Linked DNA regions of Homo sapiens: region 2 is linked to region 1. The links come from fine-mapping of genetic effects on gene expression. A gene starts in region 1. The other region holds a variant in brackets. All regions are shown on one strand. Distances are from middle to middle. Region 1 holds the start of NHIP (neuronal hypoxia inducible, placenta associated). Region 2 has its middle 20 kb from the start of NHIP.

Region 1 (2,907 bases):
CATGTGGTCGTTTTAAAATTGATTTTTGGCCCAGCACGGTGGCTCACGCCTGTAATCCCAGCACTTTGGGAGACCGAGGCAGGCGGATCACCTGAGGTCAGGGGTTCAAGACCAGCCTGGTCAACACGGTGAAACTGCGTCTCTACTAAAAATATAAAAATTAGCCAGTCGTGGTGGCGGGCGCCTATAATCCCAGCTACTCGGGAGACTGAGGCAGGAGAATCGCTTGAACCCGGGAGGCGGAGGTTGCAATGAGCCGAGATCAAGCCATTGCACTCTAACCTGGACGACAGAGTGGGATTCCATCTCAATCAATCAATCAATCAATTTTTACTTTTCGGATTGTGTATAAGAAACTCTTTCTGTTCTTAGGTCGTAAAGACCGTCTCCATCGCTTCTTCCGTTCGTGCGGTGGCCTCTCCTCTCACCATGGTGGCCTGGAGGCACCCAGATTTCTCTGGCCACGCGGCGCTCCAAGTCAGGAGTCAGCGCACAAGCCACGCGCGGACACCAGAACAGCCTGGAGGAAAAGCAGCCTCGTTCTGTTACCTTCTGCTGGTTACCCAGAGCCCGGTCCCTGCAGCCTGTGGGGAGAGACACAGACCCCCACTCTGCATCCGGGCGGAGTCACCCAGCGTTTACCCGCGTGTATTTCAAACTGCCGCAAGGACTACGTTTACTTTTCTCGCCCTGCTTCCGTGTTCTGCCATTTTTGAGGTCTCCACCACGGTCCCCTGGCCCCGGCCTAGACCCGGGCCTTTCCCCAGGGGTCCTGCTCCTCCGTGGCCCTGGACCGCTTGGCCCCTGTGCTCCTCTTTCCCTGGCTCCAGGATGCAGCCAGCTTCTCTTCAAGAAACTCAACCCCGGCTTGTGTTACCCCGAGGGTGTTTCCAGGCGTGCGAGGGGTGTGAGGGGTGGGACTGCACAGCGCGTCCCAGCCTCGGTCCCGGGCCCGGCCCCGGCAGACTCTGGAGAAGCCCAGGAGCGCGTGTCCCCGCCGGCCCCGCTCAGCCTGACCTGCTTTTCCCCACAGAGGTGCCGGGGTTCGGTGCAGTCTGGCCGTGTCCTCCTCTTCTCGCGGTTTCAGATTCTTCTTGCGTGACATTTTATCACACAAGACCGTGTTCGGGGATGGGGTGTTCTGAGCACGCCCTTACCGAGCCAGGCTCACCCAGTTCCCCATCTAGAGCTCCCTGCTGGCATCTCTCACCTGGGACCCCAGCCTGCAAGACTCCGACACCCACGCCCTTAGGGTGATGTGGCCGCGCCCAGCCTGCGCTCAGCACCACGGGAGGGAGGGCGGCAGGCGGAAGCCCCGGCCATCTTGGGAAGGGCCTTTTGGGACCGTGTGTTCCGCTGAGAACCACAGACCCATGCTTCAGACGCTACAGATTTCTCTCTCAAATGCCTGGATTCAAAATATAAAAGTGTGTTTGAGCAAACAGCAAAATATTTGGGAAATTCTCCCAGCGAGGCTTCTAATGACCCCGTAGGAAAAGCCAGGCTGCTCCCTGCTGCGCCTCCAGCGAACTTCCCACCGGGCAGGACTCTGGGAAGAAGAGCAAAGGGTTCTATTTTGCGTAGAATTTAAATAAAATTGCTTCACAGACGGGAAACGTCAAGCAAGCAGCACTCTGAGCCCATGCGTGCTTTTAATGCCTGAATGACATCGCAATTCAGTCTGAGTTCCCGCCTGGGCTCAGGGCCTTCTGAACTGCCGGGGGCTGTGAAATGGTTTATAATCAGAAGAGAAGCAGTGAGAGTTTAGATCCAAGATCCAAGGAAGTGTTTTCAGACTCAGTGTTAGCACATTTGTGTCTATACCAGTCCAGGCAGGAGGCTGAGGCAGAAGAATCGCTTGAACCCAGAAGGCAGAGGTTGCAGTGAGCCGAGATCGTGCCACTGCACTCCAGCCTGGGCAACAGAGCGAGACTCCATCTCAAAAAAAAAAAAAAAAAAAAAAAAACCACCATCAGATCTCGTGAGAAAGTACTGTCAGAATAGCCTGGGGGAAAACCACCCCCATGATTTAGTTACCTCCCACTGGCTCCCTCCCATGACACATGGGGATTATGGGAGCTACAATTCAAGATGAGATTTGGGTGAGGACACGGCCAAACCATATCAGGCTTCCACCCTCATAAACAGATTAATGTCATTATCGAGAGAGTGGGTTTGTTACCTCAAGAGTGGGGTTTCTAAAGTGAGCCTGGCCTCTCCTGCTCGGACTCAGGCCCTGGCTCCTGCCCTCCATCCTTCTCCCATGGGATGACCTTTGCCAGATGCCAGCACCATTGTCCTGGACTTTGTAGTCTCCAGAACTGCGAATGAAATAAATCTCATTTCTTTATAAATTACCCAGCCGGTGGCATTTCATTACAGCAGCAGAAAACAGAATAAGACAGTGGTCCTCTCTGTTATTTCTTGGTGTCTGTTTTTATGAATTTAAGGACATAATTATAGATTTTCTATTCATTAGCTTCTTTAGGTTTATTCTGTTATTCTCTGATGTTTTAAGTCAAGCTTTATTTTAAAGTTTTTCTTACTTCCTACATATGTTAAAGGTGACACATTTTCATGTAAATGAGGGATTTCTGCTAACCGTAGCTTACGGGAACAGAGCCACACCTCTTCATTTTCATACTGCCTGTGTTCGCTTTCTGACCAATCCAGCAGAGAAGAGGAGATGCAACAGAGACTATCCCACAAAGCCAAATATATTTTTATTTTTGTTTGTAAAAAATATTAGTAATAATATTTTTAAATGGGAAATGATCATCATCTGCACTTGTGAAATGCCATGTGGTATTTGGATGTATGTGCAAAACATGGAGTGATTAATTAAAGCCAATTAATATATCCATTGATTCTCTTAGTTATTTTGAAATATACAACACATTATTGTTA
Region 2 (2,907 bases), 20 kb before region 1:
ATGAGATCTGTGCCTTTTTCATTTAGTTCCCTGCAGTGTGTATGGCTTATGCTGCCATTTTTGAATGGGAGATTATTATCCAGTTCCATGTCTAACTGTTTGCTGCTAGTGTAGAAAAAAAAATGGTTTCTTTTTGGTCGTTTTATATCCAGTCATCCTAAGAGTCACACTTTGCTAGTGTAATATGCTTACTCTGTGCCGTTACTAAAAGCATGAGAAGATGAAAATTCAGAAGCCAGCTGAGAAGAGACCTCTCAAGTGTGTTTGTAACTGTGATCTTCACAGATGCCAACCCTTCCCGGAAATGCTGGCCCAGGCTCTCTGAAATTCACATCCTAGACATCAAGGCATTCAATGCCTTTGGTGTGTGCACATACATGTATGTGTGTGCACATGGGTGTGTATGAATGTCACACACACCCCAGGGAATACAGTCATCACAGGCGGTAGACAGGCAATCAAGGTCCGAGCACCCCACAACTTCACAGGTGTTGAAAGTGAGGCTGGTCTGGCTCTTGCTGAAGGAAGGGCCCGGGAGCAAGTTCAGAAACCCCAAAGTCAAATGTCCACCATAGGCAAGGCATGCACAGAAACAAACAGGACACGTTCTAACAGCAAAATGCAAAATTAATGAGGGGTGTAAATAGGCAATTTAAAGAAGAGGAACTGTTGATAGAAGTTCAAACTCATTTTTATGAATAATTATGTGTCTGATTGACTTGCTGTCTTTCACATATTTGATTGGCAATGCTTAAAATAATTGTCAGGGGAAATACAAGGCAACAAGAGCTCCTGACATTGATGGTGACAATTAGATTTGCAGCCTTTCTTTGGAAATAAATGGAAAATGTCTATTAATATTAAACAGACACATTCCCTTGGACTCAGAAGCCCCAGAGGGGTGGCCATCTGGGGGATGAGTGGGGTCAGGGTGCCCCTCACCCAATTCTAAAGCCATGTTTCTCCTTCCCCCTCCAGCTGTCAGCATGGATGCCCAGCCCTTCCCACCGTCATGCCCTCCACTTTTCCTTCCTCCCTGTCTTCCCTCTACCTTTCTCCCCATCAACTCTTCCCCATTCACCAAGGTGTATCCAAATACCCCCTCCTCCATGAAGCCTTCCCTGCTCCAGCCCTCGAGGCCCCAGTCACCCCCTGCCCTGGTGTCCATGCAGCCATCCGAGGGGGTAGGTCTGCCTGCTGCCTTGATGCCTGATGCCTCGGGGGCCTCTTCCCTCAATGAAGGCTTAGGGCCCTGGACAGGGACTCTGCCTCTTCTCCATGGACCCCTTGGCAGTGCCCATCAGAGGGGTGGGCACATGGGCCTCCATGCCACACATAGGCAGTGGATTCAGCTTGATCCCTAGGCAGATGCTTCCCTGGGCTTGCATATGGGAGCCGGGGTGGGTGTGGAGCAGAGCAGTAGCCTCCATGGGAGAAGATGCCTGGGGCCTGCAGGCGGGTGGGAGCAGTTCTGAAGGAGGAGGGAAAGCAGGGCCACCTTGGAGACTTCACTGGGGTCTCTGCCCTGGACCTGAGCCAGGGAGGGTGCGTAGGAGCCCCCTGGAGAGCC[G/A]GGCATGGAGGGAAGTGAGTCCAGGCCGGAGGGTGCTGGGACCACCAGCAGCGTGTTAGCAGGGGCAGGGAGGCCGGGGACGCCCCGTAGCAAGTGAGCAGGCAGATGGAGCAGGCTGCCGGGCTCCTGGTACGCACAGCTGGGCCACCCCTGCCAGCAGAGCAGGAGAATCCTGCGTCCCCCCACAGCACTGCAGAGCAGGGAGTTTAGAAAATGCCCGGAATCTCAGTAAACTCTCCCTGCCTCCTCATCCCATGATCCTCAGCCAGCAGTTTGGAGCCGTGAGTTTGCATTTTTCAGAAGGCTCAATCCCTGCTGTGGGCATGAATTATACGGATGCTCCGGATGCCGAGGACAGCCTTTGTCTTCTTGGTGCACTGCAAAGGTGAGCGTCCCTGTGACCTTTTGCTAACAAAAGACTCTTCTCCCAAGTCCTCTCCCGGACATCAGACACCCCGGGCCGGCAGAGGACACAGACTTGCCATTGCCGGGCGGACCCACTGAGCGGTGTGACCTGCCCCAGGGGCCTCAGAGGAAGACGGCTGGTGTGTCCCTGAGACAGGAGAGACGCATTGCCACAGGCTCCCCAGAAACAAGGTCCCCAAATGCCACTGTCGGCTGCTGAGGTACAGGGAAGTGCTTGGTGGAGACCACGCTCGCCAGGCTGCCCTGCAGCCAAAAGGCAGAGGCTGAGCAGGAACGCAGCCTCCGCTGAGGGCCACGTGGTGAAATCAAGTATCTGGGCCTGGGAAAGACATTTCTGGGGAGTCTGTGTGCTGCGGTCTGGCAGCACCGAGTCCGCTGTGTGCGGGGGGCTGGTAGGACTGGCCTCCTGAAAGGAGGGGAGAGATCAGCGTGCTTGGAGGGAGACCAACTCCCAAAAGGAACAAGGTTGGAGGGGGCAAGGCAGCTTCAGAGCCTGGCTCCAGCCCTGGAGACAGAAAGACCAGTTTAAATTCCCACCCGGCCCGCACCCTCTGGGGGGCCGTGGGACTTTGGGGAGCCTCTTTGGTCCTTAGTTTTATCTTCTGTGGAACAGACGCAATAATCCGTATTTAGTTGGGGGTAATTAGTCGACGTATGTGGATAGGTGGACACGCAGTACACTTGGTGATGGTGGCCGTCTTCACCCCTCTCTCCCTGGTTTCCCTAAGAGAGGCATCTCTTTCCGCCCTTCTCCCCTGAAACTTGGGGTGTGAAGTGTAAGATGCTGGATCTCACAGACAGGAGCCCACCACCGACCCAGAGACATCGTGGCCAGTTTTGAAATCTTCAGTCTCAGAGGACACTCATGGGCTCTGCGATGCTGGGTGGGTCGTGTGCCCACCCTGAGCTCC

Evidence for each region. PIP is the estimated chance that this variant, and not a neighbour inherited with it, causes the effect. A credible set is the group of variants that fine-mapping cannot tell apart.
Region 2: its variant is the best candidate, but not a certain one, in a credible set for the expression of NHIP in testis (GTEx, PIP 0.61).

What each region holds. Positions count from the first base shown.
Region 1 is chr22:49,051,154-49,054,060 of GRCh38, forward strand. It overlaps NHIP (neuronal hypoxia inducible, placenta associated), which reads right to left and starts at 1,232. Exons shown (of 4, transcript NR_183584.1): 1 at 1-1,232. RefSeq lists an enhancer at 1,199-1,278.
Region 2 is chr22:49,030,793-49,033,699 of GRCh38, forward strand. No RefSeq gene overlaps it. Among named protein-coding and RNA genes, the nearest start is that of NHIP, 20 kb to the right of the region's middle. The variant G/A (reference allele first, on the strand shown) is at 1,571.